4 linked regions of the Homo sapiens genome follow. The main gene of each other region encodes a partner of the protein of the gene in region 2 in a complex. Each region holds a gene or a part of one and is shown on either strand. Other genes may lie near its edges.

Evidence for each region.
Region 1: SNIP1 (region 2) and BUD13 share a complex: the UniProt entries of both Homo sapiens proteins name them as parts of the minor spliceosome.
Region 3: SNIP1 (region 2) and EFTUD2 share a complex: the UniProt entries of both Homo sapiens proteins name them as parts of the minor spliceosome.
Region 4: SNIP1 (region 2) and SRRM1 share a complex: the UniProt entries of both Homo sapiens proteins name them as parts of the minor spliceosome.

The regions. Positions count from the first base shown.
Region 1 is NC_000011.10:116,762,988-116,770,013, forward strand, and holds part of BUD13 (BUD13 homolog), read right to left. Parts: intron 2,460-7,026; coding exon 2,375-2,459; intron 280-2,374; coding exon 1-279. UniProt on the Homo sapiens protein: Involved in pre-mRNA splicing as component of the activated spliceosome. As a component of the minor spliceosome, involved in the splicing of U12-type introns in pre-mRNAs.
Region 2 is NC_000001.11:37,537,289-37,544,314, forward strand, and holds part of SNIP1 (smad nuclear-interacting protein 1), read right to left. Parts: intron 3,468-7,026; coding exon 2,869-3,467; intron 1,449-2,868; exon of another isoform or gene 1,401-1,448; intron 725-1,400; coding exon 460-724; 3' UTR 1-459. UniProt on the Homo sapiens protein: Required for pre-mRNA splicing as component of the spliceosome. As a component of the minor spliceosome, involved in the splicing of U12-type introns in pre-mRNAs. Down-regulates NF-kappa-B signaling by competing with RELA for CREBBP/EP300 binding.
Region 3 is NC_000017.11:44,854,446-44,861,471, forward strand, and holds part of EFTUD2 (116 kDa U5 small nuclear ribonucleoprotein component), read right to left. Parts: intron 6,099-7,026; coding exon 5,987-6,098; intron 5,601-5,986; coding exon 5,460-5,600; intron 4,737-5,459; coding exon 4,635-4,736; intron 2,713-4,634; coding exon 2,630-2,712; intron 560-2,629; coding exon 473-559; intron 238-472; coding exon 111-237; intron 1-110. UniProt on the Homo sapiens protein: Required for pre-mRNA splicing as component of the spliceosome, including pre-catalytic, catalytic and post-catalytic spliceosomal complexes. Component of the U5 snRNP and the U4/U6-U5 tri-snRNP complex, a building block of the spliceosome.
Region 4 is NC_000001.11:24,646,294-24,653,319, forward strand, and holds part of SRRM1 (serine/arginine repetitive matrix protein 1), read left to right. Parts: intron 1-373; coding exon 374-496; exon of another isoform or gene 497-2,565; coding exon 2,566-2,736; intron 2,737-3,677; coding exon 3,678-3,793; intron 3,794-5,115; coding exon 5,116-5,319; intron 5,320-6,140; coding exon 6,141-6,335; intron 6,336-6,619; coding exon 6,620-6,739; intron 6,740-7,026. UniProt on the Homo sapiens protein: Part of pre- and post-splicing multiprotein mRNP complexes. As a component of the minor spliceosome, involved in the splicing of U12-type introns in pre-mRNAs. Involved in numerous pre-mRNA processing events.

The sequences.
Region 1 (7,026 bases), on a different chromosome or scaffold from region 2:
AAGGATCTGGAGAATCATGACGGGCCCTCCTTGGGGGTGAAGTGTCTGAGGAGTCATGACGGATCCTCCTGGGAGGAGATGTGTCTGAGTCATGACGAGCCCCTCTGAGGGGAGAAGGATCCGGGGTGTCATGACGGGCCCTCCTAGGAGATGGATCCGGGGTGTCATGACGGTCCTTCCTAGGAGATGGATCTGGGGTACCATGACGGACCCTCCTAGGAGATGAATCCGGGGTATCGTGACGAAAATGTCTGTTTGAGGGTAGGTCTTCGTTGTGGCCTAAACACAAATAACAAAGAGTCAGATTCCCACAAATGCTCTGTCCCTCTGTCCACCCCCACACCCAGTTTCAAAAGATGCTCCAGTAGCACATACCTCAGAACTGCTCAGAAAGCCCAAAAGGCCTGCACAGTTTTCTTGCTTAGGGGCAGCAAACCACCACTCATGAATATCTTAAGAATAACCCCTCCGCCTACCAAGTCATAAATTTGCAAAGCATTTTCAGCACATTTTTCATATTATACCCTTTAAGGTAAGCAGGGCAGGTACCCTTGTATTACAGCATGAAAACAGAGGCCACAGCCTCTGTTTTCAGCTGAGGAGCTGAGTGATTTCTTACCTAAGGTCACAGCTCCTAAAATGAAGACACAGGCTAGAATCCAAGTCTTCTAACTCCCAGTCCAATGTTCTTTCTAAAACCTCATTTGTGCAGAGTTCCCAGCTAGTGGCTCCTACTGATATTTTGCCTAGATACTTTATAGTTTGTACTCACTCTTCTTTCAATAGGTAAATTGACTAAAACGGTGAATATCAAAATAAAATGCTGTTAACTATTTAATCCATTTCACTGTGCTCTTTCTTAGAGAGGGGAAAAATCACCATAAAAAAGAAAGGAGCAAGTAATTACCAATCACCTACTGTGTGCCAGTGTTTCATAGAGATTACCTGATTCAATTCTCACAACAAGCCTAGGACATAAATACTGTCATTTCATTTATAGATGAGGAAGTTGATACTCAGAAAGATTAACTTGCCAAAGTCATATTGCTAATAAGTGGTAGAGGAATATTTAAATCCAGCTCTATTTGACTCCAGAGTCCATGTGCAATCTTTAAAATATGTAAAGCTTTAAAGTTAAAATACATAGTTTGAGACCTTCCATATTCAAAGGCACCACAGAATGAAATATCTATAGCAACTGGAACAGTTTCAAAATCCAGTTCTTCCTCTACCTCTATTTCTTGTCATTGAGCTCCACAGCCCAAATACAAATAAAAGCTGGGTAGGAACTGATGAATACTTGTTAAATGGATGAATTAAACCAAGTCAACTCCTTTACTTTGGGGAACAGCCCTATCTGATTGGAATCCACTCCACAGAGAAAAGTATGATGTCTGTGGGGGGCCTAACAGTAAATCTGAAGGAAGCAAGGGTCAGAGATTGGTAAGCGTACTTCCAATAACAAATTGGGATGGGGGAGTGAAAGCAAGGCAGAAGAAAAGGAGTGAGTGAGTGTGAGTGTGACTGTGTGTGTGTGTGACTGACCTTCTAAACATTCAGATACACAAGAAAAGGCACCGTGTGTATGTGTGTGTCTGTGTGTCTTCCTAGACAAACAGACATGGAGACCAAAAGATTCTCTTTGGAAAAGAATTCTGATTAGGCTACAAAAATCAAATACCTACTAGCAATTAAACAATTCTACAAATATTTATTAAAGGTAGCTCCTTGTGCTAGATAGGGGAATATCATGGCAAATAAGACTAGTCTATGCTCAAACAGATGTGACAAACAAATGCTTTTTATCCAATTCTCAAGGACTCAAATTTTTTTAAAGAGAGTTAAATTAAGATTATTAGCTTAGGAAGAGTCCAAAGTGGGCAAGTGGAGGGTAATGCACTATAAAACACCAATACTTAAGGAAAGAAGAGAGAAATTTACTAACACAAACAGAACAAAATACACTGGTCCTTGACCCCCCAGAAATGAGTTGCTTCATTGTGGAAGAGGATAGTGGTAGCTAAAGTCCCCAAATTCTGCTCCTGTTTCTTGTAAACTCCTCCCAAAGTCTTGCCTATACACCAAGTGCTCTCCTATTCTGAGTCAAAGAGGAATGGGTGCTCAAAGGCCTCCAAATTAGTCACCAACCTCAGTAATCCTAATGCCAAAATATAAGAGAAAGAGGAATATCTGGTCTATAAGTTCCTATGTCTTACTACCTCTGAAGAAGTCCAACTTCCTTTTTCCTGCTTTATTTTTCAGGATCAATGACATGCTAAAACAAACTATGCATTCCTCTAAAGAAAAGTATAGAAAAGGAAAAAAGATCTCCCCTACTAATGGAAATTTAGATTTATCTATTGTTGGAACTCACCTCCCAGAAGCTTCCATTTGGCACTGGAACGAAAGGCCTCCATCTGCTTTACCTCTTCTGGCCGCTCATCCACAAACTCTGCCACCTGTGAGAGTAAAGATTTCCTATCTTAGGAAATCCACAGGATCCAGCCAAGAAGCACTGTCTCAAGAACCTGAAGTTACAACCATTCCGATTCCTAACACAAGGGCGTACATATATCCAAAATGGTCATGAAGAAGTAAGTAGGGGTCTTCAGTTATGTTTGCTCCATAAACATCTGATTGTCACTGTATTGGTTTAATTGTAGATCCTTCTCTAATTAATCAATTACCCTGCAAAGGTTAATTTTTTTCATTACAAACCTTTTTATTAACCTGCTAGGTACACAACAGCCACTTGTAAACTAACAACTAAATTCCTTTTACACTTTTACTTCTACATTAACAGTGGAAACATAGGTGGCTCCCCCCATCATGCCTAGCACTAATCAAGGACTTTGGGTTTCTATGAATCCTTTCTTGTTGTAGGTAGTCACAGTGATAGGTTTTCTTGAATACAACCAAAAAGAGCCACTGAGATGTACACAGAATCATTAATCTTTAAGAGCTAAAACCACATTTCATATCTTCTAAACTTCTGAACAAATCAGAATCTTCTCTATAGTATTCCTAATAAGTGGTCACTCGCCCAATCCCTTCCTGACAAGGAACTCATTATCTTACAACACAGTCCACTGCATTTTTCAAAAATGTTAGAAAGTTCTTAGTTTTACTAGTACCGTATCTGCCTTCCTATAACTTCTTTGAATTCATTCTAGTTCTGACCTGTGATGTAAGTCCACATGACAAACTTTCAAGATTGCTGGCATAATAAATCCTAGTTACAGAGTAGCAACTATGTGCAAGGTACTGTGTTTTGTGGTTTACTCATATAATCTAACTCGATTCTCACAATAATCCTGTAAAGAAAGGCTCCACACTACTGAATAGCAAACTGATTCGGAGAAGTTCAGTAACTTTCTCAATGTCACAAGCTAACAAGTGGCAGAACTGGAATTTAAATCCAGGTCATAATAGCCCTCTACTTCTCCCAAAATCCTACCATCATTCTTCATATAACCCAGTTTTGAGATCTCTCACTGAGCGTTAAAAGCACAGGTTTCGGGCAAGATGAATTAAGATCTAAACCCCAGCTCGGCCACTTAGCATTTGTGTAACCTTTGGTAAATTATTCTAAGCCTCAATTTCCTCATTTGTAAAAGTGGGATTCAAAGGATTGCTATAAGGATTGAATGAGATAATTCACGTAAGCTTAGCCATGCTTGGTACATGATAAATGCCCAATAAATGACACCTATTAATTATTCCTGTGCTGCCACTGCTATCGTAATCATCATAATCGTTTTACCATTATTACTGGTGGTGGTGGTGATCTTGCAGTTACAAAAATGAATTCAGTAATCAAGATCTGTTTTAACCAATGCAGAGAGCAGTGGCACTAAAGCCTCCTTTGTTTAGGTTTTTGGGCCATCATAAAAGCAAGACAATATTATAAAAGAAAATGGCCAGGTGCGGTGGCTCATTCCTGTAATCCTAGCACTTTGGGAGGCTGAGGCGGGTGGATTGCTTGAGCCCAGGAGTTCATGACCAGCCTAGGCAACACGGTGAAACCCCGTCTCTACCAAAAACACAAAAATTAGCTGGGCATGGTGGCAGGCGCCTGTAATCCCAGCTATTTGGGAGGCTGAGGCAGGAGGTTCACTTGAACCTGGGAGGCAGAGGCTGCAGTGAGCCAAGATTGAGCCACTGCACTCCAGCGTTGGTGACAGTGTGAGAATATGTCTCAAAAAAAAAAAATAATAAAAACAATTATGAACTAAGTGAAAAGGCAAATGATAAAATACACCCACAACATAAGCCTAATGAACATATAAAAAATGATTCATTTCACTAGTGTTCAAAGAAACTGGGCCAGGCACGGTGGCTCACGTCTGTAATCCCAGCACTTTGGGAGGCCGAGGCAGGCAGATCATGAAGTTAGGAGATCAAGATCATCCTGGCTAACACAGTGAAACTTCATCTCTACTAAAAATACAAAAAATTAGCCAGGCATGGTGGCAGGTGCCTGTAGTCCCAGCTACTCGGGAGGCTGAGGCAGGAGAATGGCGTGAACCCGGGAGGCGGAGCTTGCAGTGATCCGAGATCACGCCACTGCACTCCAGCCTGGGCAACAGAGTGAGACTCCACCAAAAAAAAAAAAAAAAAAAAAAGAAACTGGATACCATTACTCACTTGCTAAATCAGCATAGGTTTGCTATTGGTTTTGTTTTGTTAATAATCCTTCAATATTGGTGGGGCATGTGGCTAACACCTGTAATCCCAACACTTTAGGAGGCCTAGGCAGGAGGATCACTTGAGCCCAGGAGGTCAAGACCAGACTGGGCAACACAGAGACCTCATCTCTACAAAAAATACCCAAAATTAGCCAGGCATGGAGGTGCGCACCTGTGGTACCAGCTACGTGCAGGACTAAGGTAGGAGGATTGCTTGCACCTGGAAGGTAGAGGCTACAATGGGGCATGATCACACCACTGTATTTCAGCCTGGGCAACAGAGCAAGACCCTGTCTCAAAAATAATAATAATAATAATAATAATAATAATAATAATAATAATAGTGCTCTAATATTGACGACGTAGGCAAACTGGCATTCTCATCACCTCTAGTGGGAGTGTAAATTGGTAGCACCTTTTGGAAAGCAACATGGGAATATAACTAAAGCGAACCATACCCTTTGATCCACTCATTTCATTTTATGGGAATAAAGAAATAAACTGATTTCTACAAATGATTTATGTACAACGATGTATGATATTTTATAAGTGGAAACAATCCATGTATCCAGTAACAGAACAGATAAAATATATATATTGAACTACTACATAACCGTTAAAAATCATACACTCAAAGAATATTTTAAGGTCTTACCAGAGTATCCACAACATATTATTTAGCAGAGGAGTAGACTCCAAAACCCTATGTACAATATGATCCCAATTATGTTCAAAAAAATAAAATACAAGCGTGTATAATCTCTAAAGAGAAAAACCTGAAGAGATATGCATCCAAGTATTAGCAGTTATCTTTGGATGGTAACATGCAAGTGTTTATTCTTTTAAAAACTTTAAACTTTTTTTAATTCCCAAATATTCTGTAATAAATATGCATTGCTTTTATAAAATTAAAAAAAAACAACAAACATTGTTAATATTTACTTCTTCTGACCAAAACTAAATTGGCTCCCTAAGATCACTATTTCCCTTCTAATTACTAGCAAGCCCTCTTTTAAATAATCTATTTTAGAATTTTGCTGGGAATTGGCCAGGTGCAGTGGCTCACACATGTAATCCCAGCCCTTCAGGAGGCCGAGGTGGGCGGATCACGAGGTCAGGAGATCAAGACCAACCTGGCTAACATGATGAAACCCTGTCTCTACTAAAAATACAAAAAAAAACACAAAAAATTAGCCGGGCGTGTTGGTGGGCCCCTGTAGTCCCAGCTACTCAGGAGGCTGAGGCAGGAGAATGGTGTGAACCCAGGAGGCAGAGCTTGCAGTGAGCCGAGATCATACCACTACACTCAAGCCTGGGCAACACGGTGAGACTCCGTCTCAAAAAAAAAAAAAAAAAAAGAATTTTGCTGGGAATTAATATTAAATACTCACTGGAATCCATCTTTACCAACTTTAGTGGAATTCAGCCTATCTACAGCTCTCCTTTCCACTTTGTTTCTCAGAAATTCTCAGCAATGGTTTCATGAACCACTGGGAGGTCATTTGCCTATGATTTTGTCCACCTGGCTCTTACTTACCCTTCAAAACTCAGTATTTACATCTTTCAGGATATCTCCCAACAGAATACAAAGTATGCTACCTCCCCGGGCTCTAATGGTACTTGGTACGTATGTGAAACATCCCCAACATTTACCATACTGTTGAAATTTATCTGAAATTCAGTTTTTCATTCTAGGGTATAATCTCTAAAATACAGCTATGTTCTATTAATCTACATATCTCCAGTACTTAGGCAAGAATATACAATTTGAAAGCTTAGTTAAAGCACTGAAAAAAGGAGCAAATAAAAAGTTCCCTATAACTGAACCTCAGCATTGTTTTTAAGAAAGATTCCAACAAAATGAACCACAGCTAAGTCTCATCATTACTCTAACACTGATGTCGAGAAGTCCTCTCTCTGTGATCCATCTCATTTCTAGGCTGATGGACCCTCCATAAAGAGACAAGTTGGTGTATAGGCATCAGCAAAGAAAACTATTTTAAACAGCTCTTTGGAAACTGTCACCTCTTTTCTGTTCTCAACTAACCCCCCTACAAATCTACCCTAAGCTGGAAAAATAAATTTGAGAAGCTTGGCCTGGCACAATGGCTCACGCCTGTAATCCCAGCACTTTGGGAGGCCAAGGTGGGTGGATCACCTGAGGTCATGAGTTCAAGACCAGCCTGGCCAACATGGTGAAACCCCATTTCTACAAAAATTAAAAAAAAAAAATTAGCCAGGCATGATGGCGGGTGCCTGTAATCCCAGCTACTCAGGAGGCTGAGGCAGGAGAATCATCTGAACCCGGGAGGCGGAGGTTGCAGTGAGCCAAGATCAT
Region 2 (7,026 bases):
CAAAGCCTAGTAAGATTCTCTGCTCAGGGGTTCGCCCCAAAAGAAAAACACCTGGTCCACAAAGCTTAACACCTATATAAATAAAGTAACTGTACAAAGAGAACAAGCCATGATTTCCCCTTAACCAAGGGTTTATAGTTTCCTAGGCAGCAGTTCTGAAAGCACCAACTAAAACCACAACACTTCTACTAAAACACGGTGTGTTGTAATTGGTGAGACTGTTCTGAAAACAAATGCCTGCAGGCATGTGGCCAAGGTGCCACAGAAAAAGTTTAACAAACATTAGTCAGTGTATTCAAATGGTAACACAATCTGGTCAGCAACAGAGGAAAGACTTAAGGCAGTAAGAGGCATTACAGAGAGCACCATAGTGCTGGACCCACCACCATAGTGCTCTCTGAGTCAATCAAAGACTTCCAAGAAGGAAACCGTGTATCAATAGTTTGGGTTCTTAGTTTGCTAGCTGTCAGACACTTCTTCCTCCTCCTCCTCATCCTCGTCATCTTTCCTGTCTATTTCAGAAGTGTCCGACGACTCATGGAGCAAGACGTATTCTCTGCTACTGAATCCAAATTTGAGTACATCCTTTTCTTTTAGTTCATAGTATCTCTGTGGCTCAATACGTTTGTTGTTTAAGAAGGTTCCATTGCCTGAGCCAAGGTCAATGATGTAGGGCTTCACTCTTCGGCCAACTGTGCCATCAGCACGGGTATATTCCACAAGCCTAGCAGAAAAAAAGGAGAAACCTGTGAGCAAACTTCTGCCTCAGATCATCCAGCTTCTCTAAAGCTCTTTGCTAAGATAGCCTAGATGACGTAAATAACCTGGCTTGAGCACAATTCAAGTTAAAATTCTAGGGAATCAAAGAAATCAAGGGGAAAGCATGGCCCTGGGAAGGAAAATTGGAAGTTTAAATATACTTAGAAAAGGTGAGAATGGACCGGGCGCGGTGGCTCACGCCTGTAATCCCAGCACTTTGGGAGGCCGAGACGGGCGGATCACGAGGTCAGGAGATGGAGACCATCCTGGCTAACATGGTGAAACCCCGTCTCTACTAAAAATACAAAAAAATTAGGCAGGTATGGTGGCGGGCGCCTGTGGAGCCAGCTACTTGGGAGGTTGAGGCACGAGAATGGCGTGAACCCAGGAGGCAGAGGTTGCAGTGAGCCGAGATCACGCCACTGCACTCCAGCCTGGGCAACAGAGCGAGACTCTGTCTCAAAAAAAAAAAAAAAAAAAAAGGTGAGAATGAGTTGCTGGAAGGTGGGGAGAATCCATGGTAGATCAAAAGGTGGAAATGCAGAATCCAATGTCTCTTGCTGTGGTTAAGAAAATACATTTTTTTCTGTTGTTTATAATCAACATAATGTTTCTTTAACCTATATTTCAATATATTTTAGTTCCTGTCCAAATGGGAAAAAACAGTGCACTTGGACTTCAGAGTCAAGGGAGCTATATTTGAGCCAGAGTTCTACTATGGCAGGGGTCCCCAGCTCCTGGGCCATGGACTGGTACCAGTCCGTGGCCTGTTAGGAACCGGACCACACAGCAAGAGGTGAGCAGCGGGCAAGCAGGCAAGCGAGCCAAACTTCATCTATATTTTCAGCTGCTCCCCATCACTTGAATTATCATTGCCTGAGCTCCGCCTCCTGTCAGATCAGCAGTGGCATTAGAGTCTCGTAGGAGCATGAACCCTATTGTGAACTGTGCACAGGTGGGATCTAGGTTGCGCGCTCCTTACGAGAATCTAATGCCTGATCTGTCACTGTCACCCATCACCCCCAGATGGGACCATCAAGCTGGAGGAAAACAAGCTCAGGGCTTCCACTGATTCTAGATTATGGTGAGTTGTATAATTATTACATTATATATTACAATGTGATAGTATTAGAAAATAAAGTGCACAATAAATGTAATGCACTTGAATTATCCCGAATTCCCCCGGTTCCATGGAAAAACTGTCTTCCATGAAACTGGTCCTTGGTGCCAAAAAGGTTGGGGACCACTGTACTATAGTGATCATTTGTTAGGCAAGTCACTTGGTTTTGCTGGGCTTCAGTCTTCTCATCTGTCAAATGGGGATACAAATACGTGTCCATTCGAAGTCAGGAGACCATGTTAAAAAACAAACAAACAAAACGGGCCAGCCGCAGTGGCTCACACCTGTAATCTCAGCACTTTGGAAGGCCAAGGCAGGCGGATCACGAGGTCAGGAGTTCGAGACCAGCCTGGCCAATACAATGAAACCCCGTCTCTACTAAAAATACAAAAATTAGCTGGGTGTGCTGGTGTGTGCCTGTACTCTCAGCTGCTCGGGAGGCTGAGGCAGGGGAATCACTTGAACCCGGGATGCAGAGGTTGCAGTGAGTTGAGATCGCGCCACTGCACTCCAGCCTGGGCACAGAACGAGACTCCGTCTCAAAAAACAAAAAATCTATCCTATCCTTCTCACAGGATTGTTGTGAGAATCATCACAGATGTCCCATGCAAGCTATCAAGATCCAGTTTCAAAATTAGCTGGGCACAGAGGCACACGCCTGTGGTCCCAGTTACTCAGGAGGCCGAGGCAGGAGACAATCATTTGAGCCCAGGAGGTTGCCGCTGGAGTGAGCTGTGTTTGCTCCACTGCACTCTAGACTGGGTGACAGAGTGAGACCTTGTCACAAAAAAATAAAAAATAGATTAAAAGTTTAATGTTCTTATAAATATGTAAGCAATTATTTAAAGGGCAGTTAGATTAACAATACTCTTTAGATAACATATGAGGGGTATGGGATTCTTCTGCATAAACATGAACAAAAATCTTAGTAATCCTAACTGAGTGATTGTTTCTGCTCACATTACAGTTTCTTCCTCCATGTTACTTACCGATATTGAAAGACCGCATGCTGCTTTGAACAAGACGGGTGATCAATTGGAATGTCTGCAATGCGGCGGTGTCGACCCAGTAGGTACGCACTCTGTCGATGTATGTACATGACTGGAAGCACCTCATCATTTTTAAATGGGTAGAGACGCCACCGTTTTTTGGGGATACGTGCTTCTGGGGGCTCACTATATTTAATGACTACACCCCGGAAAGTGTTGGTGTCCTCAAGAAGTGCCCCAGAAAGTTCAAAGCTTGGTTTTTCTTTAGCGGGCACCTCTTTTTCTTTGTTGTTGCCACCAGGCCGAGGAACCAACTCCTGAGACTCACTGCCGCCACCACCAACGTCATTCCTCTGGCGATGCTCCCGTCGCCTGGCATTATAAAACTCCCGCTCTTCTTCCTGAGCCTGCAGGTTCTGAGTGTCTCGATCCCGTCCCTGACCCTGCCCACTCCCAGGCCTCTCGTTAGACGTTCTCCTTTGGTGGGAATGGCCCCGGTGTCTGTCCCGGTCACTGTTCCTAGCTCTCCTGTGTTCCTGTTCTGATGGTTCCCTGTGCTGCCGATCCTCCCGTCCTCTCCGGGGATGATCCTCACGCTCCTAAAATTCAAACAGATTCTGTAATTTAAACGCAGTGCACAATCTAAAGGCAGCCCAAATCTTGTTCTTTTTGAACGAAGTGCATGCAAAAAGTCTTGTAATTTGGACTTTGGCATTTAGAACAACATTTCCCACAGAAATAAGATTATGTCTGGTGGTTATGTTCCCTCGCAAGGCCACAAAGATGATATCCCATGCTGCTATTCAACTATAGCCCTAATAGCACAAGTCCAGGTCCACAGCCCTAAAAACAAGAGACTATTTAGTCCAGAAAGGAGAAGGAAAAATAATTCCCTCCTTTTCAGAACAAAGGTAACTATGGGCAAACTTACAGGGAAGAATATACAGAAAATAGAACTAAGAGTTAAGTAGTCAGGTACAAGATATGTAAAGAAAGAAACTAGCTTTCTCTCATGCCAAAAGTGAAAATATAATAGTAAGTTTTTAAATCCTACTTCCATAGTTAAAAAAAAAATTCAATACCTAGAAATAAACTTAAGAAACATGAAAGACATATAAGAAGAAATCTGTAAAAATTCATTAAAATAAATGTTTTTTAAAGATGTGAAGAAATGGAGAAACATACCATGATTTCTTGAAAAAGATAGCAATGAAAATCAGCCTAGGCCAGGCATGGTGGCTCAAGCCTGTAATCCCAGCACTTTGGGAGACCGAGGCGGGTGGATCACCTGAGGTCAGGAGTTCCAGACCAGCCTGACCAACATGATGAAACCCTGTCTCTACTAAAAATACAAAATTAGCCAGGTGTGGTGGCACATGCCTGTAATCCTAGCTACTCAGGAGGCTAAGGCAGGAGAATCGCTTGAACCTGGGAGGCAGAGGTTGCAGTGAGCCGAGATCACGCCATTACACTCCAGCCTGGGCAACAAGAGTGAAACTCCTTCTCAAAAAAAAAAAAAAAAAAAATTCAGCCTGGTAGAAAATGTTTGCAACACAAACCATACAGTAGTCCCAGGGGGATACATTTTAAGTATGGTGGATGGCTGAAACCACGGATAGTACCGAACCTGACTGCCATCAAATGCAACACATTTCTGTTCATGTCTTCCACCCATAAATGTAATGCCTTTTCCATCTTAACTAAGCACTTGTGAACTGTGGCTATAACTTTTACAGTATGAGGTACAACAGCAAAACTAGCATGAATTTCTTTTTCCTTCTCCACAATTTCACAATAGAAGATTCATTCTTACTATCGATCTTAGCAACTTCAATATATGATTTGAAAAGTTTTTTTTTGTTTTAATTTCTTTAAGTTGAGAACTTTCAACTTTTCGTTTAAAGGAAGCACTTTACAGCTTCTCTTTAGCATTCCTAATTGCCAAAATCACTACTATTGCATTTTGGGGCCACTACTAAATAAAATAAAGGTTACTTGAATCCAAGCACTGCAAACTGCAACAGTTTTCTGAAAATCAGGATGGCTACTAAGTGATGGACAGGCAGGTAGCGCATACAGCACAGATACACCAGACAAAGGAAGGATTCACGTTCCTGGTGGGACAGCAGAAGTTTATACCAAGTGACTCAGGATAGTGACCAATTTAAATTTTATGAGTTGTTTTTTTCTGGAGTTTTCCATTTAATATTTTCAGATGCAGAAAGTGAAACCACAGATAAGGGGAGACTACTGCATATTAATATATCAATAAGAAATAATTCAACAGAGAAACTGATAAATGGTCAGGTGCCAGTGGCTCACACTTGTAATCCCAGCACTTTGGGAGGCCAAGGCGATGGATCGCTTGAGCCCAGGAATTTGAGACCAGCCTGGGCAACATGGCGAAACTCTGTCTCTACTAAAAATACAAAAATTAGCTGGGCACAGTGGTGCATGCCTGTAGTCCCAGCTACTCGGAAAGCTGAGGTGGGAGGATCGCTTGAGCCTGGGAGGCAGAGATTGCAGTAAGCCAAGATTCCACCACTGCACTACAGCCTGGATGACAGAGCAAGACTCTGTCTCAAAAATAAAAAAAGAACAGAAAAATGAACAATTTTCAGAAGAAATAAATGTCCAAGGGCCGGGCACAGTGGGTCACGCCTGTAATCCCAGCACTTTGGGAAGCCAAGGCAGGAGAACTGCTTAAGCTCAGGGCAACATGGCAAAACCCCATTTCTACAAAAAATACAAAAATTAGCCAGGCACGACAGCATGCACCTGTAATCTCAGCTATTTCGGAATTTGAGGTGGGATGATCACTTGAGCCCAGGAGGTCGAGGCTGAAGTGAGCTATGATCATACCACTGCAGTCCAGCCTTGGCAACAGAGACCCTGTCTTGAAAAAAAAAAAAAAAGAATTACATGTCCAATAAATACATGAAGATATGCTTACCCTAATAACCAAAGCATCAAATTCTAAAAGAAATATGAATTTTCTCTCCTTAATTAGTAAAATTAAAAAGATCAATAATATCTAGAGTCAAAAAAGAAGGTACAGGAAAAATGGGTATTTTCAGCCACTGCTGGTACAGGTATAAACTAGCATAGCCTATTTAGGTCAATTTGACATTATTTAATCAAAATCTCATCAACCACTAATGCCACTTATAGAAATCAATCCTACAGAAATACTAGCAGAAACGCACAAAGACATACATATGAATGTGTTTACTGTAATTTCGTAATTTAAAAAAAAAACTGGAAACAACCTAATGTCCTGCAATGGTAGAATGGTTAAATTATTATCTATTCATACAAAGGAATACTTCACAGCCATGAAAAAGAATGAGATAATGACATAGAAAGATATCTAATATATTGTTAAATGGGAGGGGAAAAAAGAGAAGGGGCAAGTTTCACAATAAGACCACATATTTCTATATATAGACTTGGCAGATGAGCTACTTGGAGAGATGTTCCCACTATAATTTAACTAGATACTTATTAAATTTTTAATGCACTGTTGGGCTTTCAATAAGCAAGGCAAAATCTCCAATGAGAAAAAAAATCTCCAAAGGGGGGTAAAAAAAAAAAAAAGATTTGAGCCCTAAGCATAAGCTCAAATACTAAAGAATACTAGACACACACAAGGAAATGGAAACAAGCCACTGAGCATGAGAGGCAGCAGAAACAAGTCTTATAGGCTGGGCATGGTGGCTCACGCCTGTAATCCCAGCACTTTGGGAGGGCAAGGGGGGGGGCAGGTCACTTGAGGTCGGTCAGGAGTTCAAGACCAGCCTGGTCAACATGGTGAAACCGTCTCTACTAAAAATGCAAAAATTAGCCAGGTGTGGTAGCGCATGCCTGTAATCCAGCTACTCGGGAGGCTGAGGCAGGAGAATCACTTGAACCCAGAAGTGGAGGTTGCAGTGAACAGAGATGGAGCCACTGCATTGTAGCCTGAACGACAAAGAGAGACTCCGTCTCAAAAAAAAAAAAGAAACAAGAGGCCGGGCGAAGTGGCTCACGCCTGCAATCCTAGCACTTTGGGAGGCTGAGGTGGGTGGATCACAAGGTCAGGAGTTCAAGACCAGCCTGGCCAAGATGGTGAAACCCTGTCTGTACTAAAAATACAAAAAATTAGAAGGGCGCGGTGGC
Region 3 (7,026 bases), on a different chromosome or scaffold from region 2:
ACTGTCCTTCACCAGAGGACACAAGATACTTTTGGGAAAAGAACACTTTGTAGTTTCTTCCACTCCAGAGGTAAGAGACCGCCACCCAGTTCCCATCAGTTCTGCTGTACCTCAGAGGGCAGAGTATCATCCACCAGAATGTTGGGGCCAGTCGCATCAGGGCCAAAAGCCCAGATGGAACGGGCAGCCAGCAGATCCCAATCGTACTTGGTCTGGAAGAACTCTCCCAGCTTCTTCCTGGGGAAGGGAGGAGACAATGGAGCTGTCAGCCAGCTCTGTGATTGCTGGTCCTGGAGCCACAGACCCTCCCTTCCTGGAAGACAGTCACTTCATCCTACCCACTGTGCCCAGAACAAGAGCAAAGGCAAAGACATAAATGCTCCCCAGAAAGATGTGTGCTCTTAGAGACCCGGCAGTTAAACTGTGGCATCCCTGCCTCCTTTCGACCCTGGCGTCAGAGCCCTGTTCTCACCTGTTCCACGTAATCTGGACCACCTCATTCTCTATGTCCTCTGCCAGGCCCTTCTCAAGAGGCTCAGCAATCATGGTGATCTTGTTCCTGGTCAGAATGGAAATGGGTGGTAAGGACGGCTAACAGAACAGCAGAAGAGGCATTACTAAGAAAAGGGTAACAAGACGGACAGCTGAGGAAGTGACATCAGTGAAAGCCACAGGGGCCAAGCGTGGTGGTTCAGACCTGTAATCCCAGCACTTTGAGAGGCCAAGGCAGGAGGATCACTGAAACCCAGGAATTTGAGGCTGCAGTGAGCTATGGCTCACACCACTGCACTCCAGTCTGGGTGATACAGCAACATACTGCCTCTTAAAAACAAACAGCCAGGCGCGGTGGCTCACCCCTGTAATCCCGGCATTTTGGGAGGCCGAGGTGGGCGGATCACAAGGTCAGAAGATCGAGCCTACCCTGGCCAACATGGTGAAACCCCATCTCTACTAAAATACAAAAAATTAGCTGGGCGTGGTGGCGTGCGCTGGCACATGCCTGTAATCACAACTACTCAGGTTGAGGCAGGGGAATCACTTGAACCCAGAAGGCGGAGGTTGCAGTGAGCCGAGATTGTGCCACTGCACTCCAGCCTGGCGACCGTGCAAGACTCTGTCTCAAAAACAAAACAGAACAAAAAAAAACCCCAGACAAACAAACAAACAAACAAACAGAACCTGGGCAACAAAGCAAGAGACCCCATCTCTATAAAAAATTAGCCAGCCGGGTGCGATGGCTCATGCCTGTAATCCCAACACTTTGGGAGGCTGAGGCAGGCAGATCATGAGATCAGGAGTTCGAGACCAGCCTGGCCAACACAGTGAAACCCCATCTCTACTAAAAATACAAAAATTAGCTGGGTGTGGTGACACTCACTCCCTGTAGTCCTAGCTACTCGGGAGGCTGAGGCAGGGGAATTGCTTGGACCCGGGAGGCAGAGGTTCCAGTGAGCTGAGATCGAGCCACTGCACTCCAGCCTGGGCTACAGAGTGAGACTCTATGTCTCAAAAGAAAAAAAAAAAAAGAAAAACAAACCCAGGTGTGGTTAGCACACCTGTAGTCCCAGCTACTTGGGAGGCTAACTAAGGTAGGAGGATCGCTTGAGCTCGGAAGGTTGAGGCTGCAGTGACCCATGGTGGCACCACTGTACTCCAGCCTGGGTGACGAAGTGAGACCCTGTCTCAAAAAAAAAAAAAAAAAAAAAAAAGCCACAGTATCAGGGGCAAGGTGGAGCAAAAAGGGCAAAGGGCTCATCTTTCTTTCATTTCAATCTACTGGTCTTTATGAAAGTAAGGTTTAAGCTGGGCGTGGTGGCTCATGCCTGTAATCCCAGCATTTTGGGAGGCCGAGGCGGGCGGACTGCCTGAGGTCAGGGGTTCGAGACCAGCCTGGGCAACATGGCGAAACCCCACCTCTACTAAAAATACAAAAAATTAGCCAGGTGTGGTGGTGCGTGCATGTAATCCCTGCTACTGGGGAAGCTGAGGCACAAGAATTGCTTGAACCTGGGAGGCAGGGGCTACAGTGAGGCGAGATCGTGCCACTGTACTCCAGCCTGGGCGACAGAGCGAGACTGTCTTAAAAAAAAGAAAAAAAAAGTAAGGTTTAAGCTGGGCATGGTGGCTCACACCTGTAATCCCAACAATTTGGGAGGCCAAGATGGGAGGAACACTTGAGCCCAAAAGTCCAAGACCAGTCTGGACAACAAAAAATAAAAAAATTAACAGATGGCCTGGTGTGTGCCCATAGTCCTAGCTGCTTGGGAGGATTGCTTAAGCCCAGAAAGTTGAGGCTGCACTCCAGCCTGTGTCAAAAAAAAAAAAAACAAAAAAACAAAAAGTGAGTAAGATTTGGAGTAAACTTTTAAGATAGTCATTTTATAGAGACAAAGTGGCAGTTATGAAACTCCTCTTGGGAATACCCAAGGCGAATAATCCCATGTCATTGTGTTCAAAGGCAGAAGGGCTGAGAGGGCTGGAGTGAAACTCAAGTATTGTAAGCACCCCCTATTCTGAGCTGTAGAGGTCTCTATGTGCATAGTGCTCATGGTGGGGGTAGAGGTGGAAGATAAAGGAGAGAGAGTGTCCAGGAGGCTGCAGTCCCAGGGACACTGTGCTCCCAGCTTACTTCTTATTAGGCGTTTCAGCAAAGCACTTGAGGGAGGATGTTTCCACCACCGTCTCACAAAACGTGACAACTGGGTCAGCCACCTGGGAAACAGAAAATAAATTACTGAAGCGAGGTCTAATTTTGTTGGAAGGGCAACCATTTACCTAAGGGAATTCAGAAGCTCCCTTGACACTACCTCTGTGAAAACCCCAACTGCCTTAATCAGCACAAGTGATAAGTACAACAGCAGGTTAAAAGAGCTGTCCAAATCATCACCAAAAAGCCCAAGAAAACTTACTGTAGTAAAGAAATTAGATTCCTGAGCCAAGAGTAAGTGGGGTATCAAACTAGGGCCTTAATTCTAGTCTTCAAAGGTAGCTCTCAGCATCCATTCAGCCATCTACCACCATTCACTGAACAACCCCCATGGGTCTGACAGAGCTGGTGCTGAGACCCACTGGCGTGCACCCATGTCATTCTCAACCCACAGCATCTGAGTGAAGCTCTGCCCTGAAGCCCCAACATGGTCTGCTGCCCAGGAAACCCAGTGTTTTCTATGACACCAATCCTTCCTCCTTCCTAGATACATCAGTAGAGGAGTCTAAGAGGGGTATTGAGGGTCCTCCACAGGGCCTTGGAGAAAATACGACTCAACTAGGACAAGGAGGCCAAGCAACACATGGTTTGAGGGGCTACATCAAGGCTTGACAAAGAATCTGGGAGAGACAGTCCCCACCCTCTCCTTGAAACCACCCACTCTGAGACCTAATCACCACCCATGGGTTAATTGTTTAATTGTGCAATTATTTCCCTAACAAAGGACCAAGAATAACTTTGGCTTGGGAGCCTTTATTTTCTTTTTCCTTTTTTTTTTTTTTTTTTTGAGACAGAGTCTCGCCCTATCACCCAGGCTGGAGTGCAATGGTGCGATCTTGGCTCACTGCAACCTCTGCCACCCGGTTTCAAACAATTATCCTGTCTCAGCCTCCTGAGTAGCTGGGATTACAGGTGCCCGCCACCATGTCTGGCTAATTTTTGTATTTTTAGTAGAGACAGAGTTTCACCATGTTGGTCAGGCTGGTCTTGAACTCCTGACCTCAAGCAATCCAACCGCCTTGGACTTTCAAAGTGTTGGGGTTACAGGCGTGAGCCACCGTGCTCGGCCTGTTTTATTATTTTTCAATGCATTTATTTTTTGAGACAGGGTCTTGCTCTGTCACCCATGCTAGGGTGCAGTGGCATGATCGTAGCTCACTGCAGCCTCGAACTGCTGGGCTCAAGCAATCCTCCTGCTTCAGCCTGCGGAGTAGCTGGGACTATAGGTGCAAGCCACCACACCTGACTAATTTTTATTTTTTAGTTTTTTGAGACAGGGTATGACTCCATCTCAAAAAGGAGAGCAATGGCACAATGATTGCTCATTGCAGCCATGACCTCCTAGGCTCAGGTTGGAGAGCAATGGCACAATCACAGTTCATTGCAGCCTTGACAGTCTAGGTTCAGGTGATCCTCCCACCTAAGCCCCCCAGTAGCTGGACTACAGGTACATGCCACTGCACTGGGCTGGTTTGTAGAGACGAGGTTTCACTATGTTGCCCAGATTGGTCTCAAACTGGGCTCAAGCAATCCTCTCACCTCAGTCTCCCAAAGTGCTGCAATTACAGCAACGGACCACCATGCCCGGCCTGGCTATTTTTTTTATTTTAATTTTTGTAGAGGCAGTGTCTCACTTTGTTGCTCAGGTTGGTCTTGAATTCCTGGCTACAAGCAATCCTCCCACCTCGGCCTCCCAAAGTGCTGGGAGTGAGCCACCAAGCACGGCTGAGCCTTGATTTTAAACGTATGACACAGCAGAAGGGGGCAAACCAGTTCTCAAAAACCTTCCCATATAAGGAGCAACAGATCATGGTTTTCACAAACACATGTACTCTCTCTTCCCTTGGAGCTTCCCAGGAATTCAAGGATTTGGTCACTTGTGAAAAGTCTGGACCGTGAACCCAGCTCCCGGCAGATACTGCTGTACCTTGATGTCTATCTCTGAGTACATCTTCCGCAAATCATGCATCACACAGTCCAGGTAGAGCTCCCCAGTGCCCAGGATCACATGCTCGCCAGACTCCTCCACCTGAAACACAACAGGCAGTCACAGCCTGGATTCTCTTATGCCAGCAAAGGCACACACAAACAAAATCAAGGCCAGAGCAGACAAGAAGTTGCCTATCAGAAACAGCTACTACTTAGCATCTGTTCCAGCCTCTTCAAGAAGGTTCAGTGAGGAGCATCTGCCTATGAGTGGGTCCTCAAGACACCAGGACCACTCAGCATGGTGATACTAGGTGTGAAGTCAATGATTTAATTCCCATCTTAATGATTTAGGTCAAACTCTACCCTATACCCATGGACATAAGCTAGCCCTTTAGCCCTCCTGGCCTGCTACCTGGAAAGGTACACTGGCAGGCTCATAGTGTACAAGGATCAGAGTAACAACTCACTTTTCCTTCTCTTCTCGAGAAAATCAATTCAAAGTATACTCATTAAGAAATGTATTTTTGTCTAGATAAAGACATCTGCGGAACACAAATACGCACACACACACACACACACAACCTTGTCCTATACCCCCCATCACTGCCCCCTCCTACACAGGTCTTGTTTTAACACACACACATACACACACACACGTGTCTTGTCCTGCCTTGACATGACAGCCATAGGCTGGGCTTGCTCCTGACACAGCTTCCTGTAAGCAGCAGATCATGAACACCTGATGGATGGGAAGCGGTGTGCAGCTCTGCCCATTCAGCTGGGGATAGTGGGGCTTGGCGGCTGCTGCAGGCCATGGGCATACCTTGGTGGTGAGGGATGGATAGCTCTTGTTGACCTTGCGCAGGCCATCAAGCATCTTGGGCAGCTCTGAGGGGTTGACTGGCTCCACAGCAATCTTGATAACAGATGTGGTATTGAACTTCAAGGGTCGGAAAATCTGAGCCTGAGATCCAAAGCACAAAGGACTGAGGGCAACTGGCATGAGCAGGCACAGAAAGTGCAGAGGTATGAGAAGAGAAGAGGACTTGCTTAGGATCAGACTATGTATTCCCCAACCAGGAGCCTGGTGCTGAGTGGGGGTAACCTGAAGGGCCATTTCTTCCCAGGTATTCTGGCAGAACAAAGAGAGGAGGAAAATAATAAAAGGCACCCGTCCTAATTCCTCGCATCTGAACTGAGTACAGGGAGAATCCAGCAGGGTCATATCTAGAAGGCTAAGCCTGAAACCAGGACATGGCAATGACTGTGGATTAGTCCCGTTTGTGCTCATGTGTGTCCCTGGGACCATCTAGCTTAAGCCAACCCAGTTGGTCTCTTCAGAAACTCTACCTCCTCATTGCCTCGGGGTTCGGTTATGGTTGCTGTCTTCACAATTGGTTGATCAACACCTTCAATCAGAACCCAGTTGCCAGCAGGAACACGGTTCACCTCGATGTGGTACCTGAAGCAATGTCCAATAAGCAGCAGTGAAACTTAGGCAGAGCATTCCCTAATTTTTTTTTTTTTTTTTTTTTTGAGACAGGATCTCACTTTGTTACCAGGCTGGAGTGCAGTGGCACAATCTTGGCTCACTGCAGCCTCGAACTTCCAAGGTTCCAGTGATCCTTCTGCGTCAGCCCCCCAAGTAGCTGGGACTACAGGCACACACTAACATGCCCAACTAATTTTTGTATTTTTGTAGAGACGGGGTTTTTTCATGTTGTCTAGGCTGGTCTTGAACTCCTGAGCTCAAGCAATCCTCCTGCCTCAGCCTTCCAAAGTGCTAGGATTACAGGTGTGAGCCACCACATCCAGCCTATTCCACAAAAATTTACTGAGTACTTGCTGCGTGCCAAGAGCAGGGGTGAGCAAAACAGATACATTCTAGCAGGGGAGAGATACAGTAAACAATCATTATCCACACATGTATGTGGTTACAAACTGATGGGCATTATGAAAGAAAAGTACAAGGTATTTCTGTGAGGACATAAGAGGAAAATCTTATTCCAATTGCAGGCTCATGGTAAAAAGCTGCCCAAGGTGTCGACTGTAAGGGGCTAGCAAAAGCATCAAAGAAGGCCGGGTGTGGCGGCTCACGCTTATAATCCCAGTGCTTTGGGAGGCTGAGGTGGGTGGCTGGATCACCTGAGGTCAGGAGTTTGAGACCAGCCTGGCCAACATGGTGAAAACTATCTCTACTAAAAATACAAAAAATTAGCCAGACATGGTGGTGCACACCTATAACCCTGGCTACTTGGGAGGCTGAGGCAGGAGAATCGCTTGAACCCGGGAGGCAGAGGTTGCAGTGAGCCGCAATCACGCCATTGCACTCCAGCCTGGCTGACAGAGAGAAAAAAAAAAAAAAAAAAAGGCTGGGAGCGGTGGCTCAC
Region 4 (7,026 bases), about 13 Mb from region 2:
GAGGCGGGCAAATCACAATGTCAGGAGATTGAGACCATCCTGGCTAACACGGTGAAACCCTGTCTCTACTAAAAATACAAAAAATTAGCCGGGCGTGGTGGCGGGTGCCTGTAATCCCAGCTAATTGGGAGGCTGAGGCAGGAGAATGGCACGAACCTGGGAGGCGGAGCTTGCAGTGAGCTGAGCACCACTGCACTCCAGCCTGGGCAAGAGTGCAAGACTCTGTCTCAAAAAAAAAAAAAAAAAATTAGCAGATTCTACTATGCCAAACAAAAAAACTAAGCTAAAAGGAACTTTGGTAGACAGAACTCTAACTTGAGCATTTTTTTTTAGGATTGTGAAGTTGTACTTAATTGTTTCTATGTTTCATCAGGTGGACATGAGCAAAGTAAATTTGGAGGTTATAAAGCCTTGGATAACAAAAAGAGTAACGGAAATCCTTGGGTTTGAAGATGATGTTGTGATTGAGTTTATATTCAACCAGCTGGAAGTGAAGGTACTAATATACAAATGGCTCTTGTTTCTGAATATGTGATATAATTTGTGAATCTTTGGAAACTGAATTTTTTCTATGGAGTGCAAATATAGAAGGGTTATTTTACAATGTTTGTTGTGAAAAGAATTCACTTTGTAAACAACTATTAAGGCTGGAAGTTTAGTGAAGGTGCATAGTTTTGAAAGCTACACAGGTGAAAAATCAAACTTATTGTTTGTAATTTTGCTGTTACATGTTAAGTTACTTTGACAGCAATTTTCTAATGATAATGTGATTTATGATTTAAAAGGCCTGAACCAAAATGGAAGTTATTCCTTGCGTCTGAAGTATAGCACCATCACCTTATTAGGTCACAGCAGAGTGAGTGTCCCAATGTCGCTCTGACCCAACTCCCTTGATGATGCAGTGTGTGTTTGGAGGTGAGTTGTGTAAAGTGGCCAAACATCAACAACAACAACAAAAAACACAAACAGGAAAGAGCAATTGGGTAAAGCTGTACACTGCTCTTTTAAAATACTATTATGAGATGGACATTTATGTGAAGCATGAGGGGCAATTCTGATTTGATTGGATATTGTTTTTAAAGGAACTAAGGTCTTTGTAGCTGCATGTCAGCTAGTCATCAGTTACATTTTAGAGACAGGATTTTTGTTTATACTTAAACTTCAGACAAATTGGCAGCATATAATTGTTCCTTTATACATGAGATAATATGATGATATAACTGATGTTTAAGAACATTCTTATTGTAAGACAGTTTCTGTTTTGCCACAGCAACCCAAAGGACAGTTAAGATATGTACCATATGACCTTTTTGCATATATACCAATGTGAATTTACTTTTACATTAATCATTTCCCCCAAAGAGTTCACCCTATGTTTTGACAGAACAGTTGGCATTTCAACTGATAAGGTATTTCTAGTTTTAAAATAATTTGGTGTTTGTATTTTGTTTTGAATATTTTTAAAGACTAATTTTAAGAATGCACTTTCTATAAAGTATATGCATCTTAGAAAACCAGGAACAGGGGAGAAAGTTTTTTAAATGATGATTGAAGATAGATTTTATTGGAGAAATGCTTTACTGATGTGTATTTTAGTGCATTTTAAAAACCTAAGTATCTGGTAGTATTCCCCTTGTAGTGAGCATGAGATTAAAGTTTAGAACTTTTTAAGACAATTCTTTTTTTGTGGTTGTGTACTCATTATTGCTTGTTCGTCTTTTGCAATTTAGATAAATGATATAACATTAAACTCAAGGTGGTTGAGTTGCAGTAGGGAGTCGGAAGCAAGCCAAGGGAACATCTTTCTCTACAGGGGACTTGGCGATTCCAAACCCCCAAGGTTCCAAGAAGAAACTGAAGACACCTGGAATCTGTACTTGCTTTGTGCTATTGAGCTGTGCTTGTTATACAGACCTTGTTGCTTGACCAACGGATTTAGCATTTAAAAACCCAATTATTTTTGAGAAATCTTGACCTCTTAGCACTTTGTGGACAGTTGAGAATTTGAGGCATTGTTATAATAGATTTTCCTTATATAAAACTCAGGCCTTTAGCTTAGCCCTCAGAAGTTACAGACTGCATGCATAACTTGTTAGTTTTCATAACTGGACAATAGATATTTTATGCAAAGCTATCTGTAGTGTTAGGGAGCAGTTTATGTACTTTTTCCGTTTCTCATTGGGGGAAAATTTCCAGGCAAGCAAATACTTTTCTTGTTAGTAAATACTAGAATTTGTGGATGTTTCATGATGGTTTTTAAAGTTAATAAATGTAAGGCCCACTAACAGCCACAGAGTCTAAAAATACTTACGAAATCCACAAAGGATTAACAGGCTGCTCTGATGCTTTTGGTAGAGTGAGAGAGAATTTGGTAATCTGTTAGAGATTATATTGCTGAGAAGCTACTAGGGAAGACTATTTGTAAAATAGTAAGGACTATATATATGTCTAAGCCCCTATGGTAGACTTAAAAAATACTAATTTAAATGAGTTTTAGGTTGGTTGATTTGTTGGTTGGTTGGTTTTGAAGTAACCTGTTTTTCTTCCTGTCGTGTCTTTTTGCAGAATCCAGACTCCAAAATGATGCAAATCAACCTGACTGGATTTTTGAATGGAAAAAATGCTCGAGAATTTATGGGAGAACTGTGGCCCCTGCTGCTAAGTGCACAAGAAAACATCGCGGGAATCCCTTCTGCTTTCCTAGAACTGAAGAAAGAAGAAATAAAACAAAGACAGGTAATAACCTTTTCTTTTCTGTAATGTCGATTTGAGAGTATTGGCCAGGCTGCCGAGACACCTTAGGTAGTATATGACTCAGCTAGGATCTTCATGTAGTTTTGCTTTGCTGTACTGTATTTAAACATTCAGTTTTGGTTCACTGCTCCTCCCTCCAACCAAACATTGAGTTTAGAATGTCATTTTCCCAGTCTAGTGATTTGCTAGATTTTTACAAATTCTTAATATGTGAGTGCATGTAGCTTAAAAGAAATTTGAATTTAACACTGAAAGGTAAGCATAAGGATTTTTGGTTTGTTGTTTTTTTGAGACACAGTTTCAGTCTGTCACCCAGGCTAGAGTGCAGTGGTGTGGTCTCTGCTCACTGCAGCTTTCACCTCCTGAGTTCAAGCGATTCTCATGCCTCAGTCTCCTGAGTAGCTGGGATTACAGGCGCACACCACCACATCCAACTCATTTTTGTATTTTTAGTACAGACGGGATTTTGCCATGTTGGCCAGACTTGTCTCGAACTCCTGACCTCAAGTGATCTGCCCGCCCTTGGCGGGATTATAGACGTGAGCCACCGTGCCCAGCCAGCATAAACTCTTAATATGGGCAATACAGATGAACTCCCAGAAAGAATAAGGTCAATGTGAAAGTGATTTTCTTTTTTATTTTATTTTTTATTTTTATTTTTATTTTTTTGAAGTAAGCTTGAAAACATCTCTTTAGTTCAGGTCTTAGAGATTAACTTTCAGTGAATATTTATTTGTAAATGAGTGGCGATAATACCAGTCTTAATGCGTATCTGTAGTGTAGGTGAAGAAAGAACAGGTCTGGTTCAAAAGAAGAGGCCGATGAAATGATAATAGCATTGGTGTTTAACACACGTAGAAAGTAGTCTTCAGTTTGTTCTCAAATGTTCAACTATGTGTATTTTGAAAACCTGGTCTTTGCAGATTGAACAAGAAAAACTGGCATCTATGAAAAAGCAAGATGAAGACAAAGATAAAAGAGATAAGGAAGAAAAAGAAAGCAGCAGAGAAAAAAGGGAGCGGTCTCGTAGCCCAAGAAGGTATCATACAATAGATGCATAACTGATGTTTTACAGGTACTTTAGGTCTTAAGAAACTTCCTTAGTTAAAAAGGAATCTAACAGCGCTATTCAAGGAATTTGTTCCATCATGCAGTTTTCATGGTGACCTGTGCCTTGCCTCTGGACTAAAGAAATCTGTCATATTTTGTTTGAGACAGATAATTTAGCCATGAGTGTCTCGCAGATGTTCATAAATTATCCAACTCTAAATTCCTAAATCAAAACTTTAAACTTTTTCTTCCATATTGCTTTAGTTCATAACAGTTAATTTGGGTTTTTAAAAATGTACTCTGACTCACTTTTTCTTTCCATTTCCTTTCTTCTAAAAAGAAATCTGTACTCGAAATCTGTACTCATTAGCCGTTCATGTAATACTTACCTAATTCCCTGTTCTGCTTTTCTTAGATGGTTGTACTGAACCCAAACTTCAGATCATTTATTTGTTTTCTTCTTCCAGTGAGACTATTGTTAGGTTCACATTTTTAAATCCACGGCTCAGCTTCTATATTTGTGGTGAAAGGTGAGAACTCCATTAGGCTTTTTATTTTTAGGGTTCTGCTTATTTCTTTCATAAATGTCTGCTGGAATTAGTAAAGAGAAGAGGTAATTTCTTTGTCCCTTTCATTTATATATTTGATACTAAAATCTCCTTATGGAAGTAATATTTATAGAGCTAAGCACAAATTGTCATGGTGGTAACTACTTGACTATTGATGAAGTATGTCTGCCATTTTCCTTCTGTGTGAATAAGAGAAAAACCCTTCGAGTTAGGCAGGCTACTGTTAAGAAAGAGGGCTTCTCCTCTCGCAAAAAAGCTATCTTCTGGATGTTTGATGTATATTTCTCTTTTCTGAAGAACATGTTGCTTTAATGGTATTAGTCATTTTTCTGGCATACTGAGGCTCTTCCTGATGAACTCCATTGTAATCTGTCCGCATCTAAATGTTTTATGTTTGGGAGTTTGATTTGTTGTCAAGGATTATCATTGTTTGCTTTAAAGCATCCTCTTTGCCTCTGAAAAGTTGGTCTTTTGATCTCTGGGAATGATTAAGAACCTAAGTCTAGAGTCCCAAGTTAGTGCTTTTCTCCCTTATAACTGATATACTCGAGAATGTTATCTTTCATTTGCTTGTCTTTCTCTTCCCTGTCAAGTAGATTAGGTTAGCATGTCTTATTTCCATAGGGAAACATCTCAGATATAAACAGTAGTGTAACTAAAGATTAATCCTCACTTCTCCCTTTGACTCCTCTCTTCCAATCCATGTTATTTAAAAACCTGAAAAAAATTACTTTCATCCTAGACGCAAATCCAGATCTCCTTCCCCTAGAAGACGATCTTCCCCTGTCAGGAGAGAGAGAAAGCGCAGTCATTCTCGATCTCCCCGTCACAGAACCAAGAGCCGGAGTCCTTCCCCTGCTCCAGAAAAGAAGGAAAAAACTCCAGAGCTCCCAGAACCTTCAGTGAAAGTAAAAGAACCTTCAGTACAAGAGGCTACTTCTACTAGGCAAGTATATAAAAATTCATTTATAAATAATCACAATTTTAGATTAATAGTGACTGCAAATATGACATCTGAGTTAAAATAAAACTACTTATTTTCCTTTTAGATTTTTTAAATTATAAAATTAGTTTGTTGAAAAGAAATTGTTTAGGAGAGTATATTAGAAGAAAATGCCCCAGAGGGTGACCATTACTATCTTTTGGTTGTATTGTTTCAGGTATTTTATATATTGTAACTTGCTTTTTTTCCTCAACGTATTGTGGACAACTTCGCACTTTTAAGAAATGTATGTGGTTGCCAGATGCGGGGGTGCATGCCTGTAATCTCGGCACTTGGGGAGGCTGAGGTGGGTGGATCGCTTGAGCTCACAAGTTAGAGAGCAGCCTGGGGCAACATGGTGAAACTCCATCTGTACTAAAAATATATATATATATATATATATATATATATATATGTACACACACACACACAAATTAGCCGGGCATGGTTGGCACATGCCTATAGTCCCAGCTACTCAGGAGGATCACTTGAGCCTGGGAGGTTGAAGCTGCAGTGAGCCAAAATCATGCCAGTACACTCCAGCCTGAGTGACAAGAGTGAGACCCTGTCTCAGAAGAAGAAAAGAAAATGTACATGGTTGGAATTATTAGTTGCTCTCTGGGTTTCAGTGATAGGTACATACATACTTATGTGTCTTTTGGAGATAGAGACAAGTCTGTGAATTTTGAAAAGTTTTAGAAATACTTTATTACATCATTGTGTAATGATTTAGAAGGCTGAGTACAAGAAGGCAAAAAAAAAAAAAAAAGCTTTTGTTTCCACAGTGACATTCTGAAAGTTCCCAAACCTGAACCTATACCAGAGCCTAAAGAACCTTCTCCGGAAAAAAATTCCAAAAAAGAAAAGGAGAAGGAGAAGACCCGACCACGATCTCGGTCACGCTCCAAATCAAGATCCCGGACGCGGTCCCGCTCTCCTTCTCACACTCGACCTAGACGGCGCCATAGATCCCGATCAAGGTGAGTTGTGGCTTTAAGATCAACAAAGATCTTAGGTTTTATATACTACTCTACTGGGTACAATTAGATAAATAATTTCAAAGTGGTAGAAGATGTTTAGTACAAATATTTTTTGAATGTACACAGAGAATTTGAGGACACTTTTCTGTGTACCATAAAAATCTACATAAATGGAAAATTTTGATCTTTGAAATTTATTTTTTAGATGTGGCCATTGAGAAAACTAAGCCAAGAAATTCCTCACTCCTGGTTTATTCAGGACCTAATTCTCTTTGTTATGGCAGATCGTATTCACCTAGAAGGCGGCCAAGCCCAAGAAGGCGGCCATCTCCTCGAAGAAGAACTCCGCCAAGAAGAATGCCTCCTCCACCAAGGCATAGAAGGAGTAGATCTCCAGTAAGACGGTAAGATTTTTTAAATTTGGAAGTGTCAAGTGTTTGACACTTCTGGATAATCTTTCTTTTAGGATAATCTGTAAATTAGTGTCCCCTGGAAGAAAGAACTGATAGGTGATATTAGACAATGTCTTCTAAAGAGTCTGTTTCATTTGAAGTGTAATGCAGTTGTTCGTGTTATGAAAAGTGTCTAGTCTGGTGTTGGAAAGTAAACGAGAAATTCATCTTATTGATACTTTTCTGTTAACTTTTACCCTTCTAGACTTCACCAAGAAATCATACTAAGTAAGAGAATT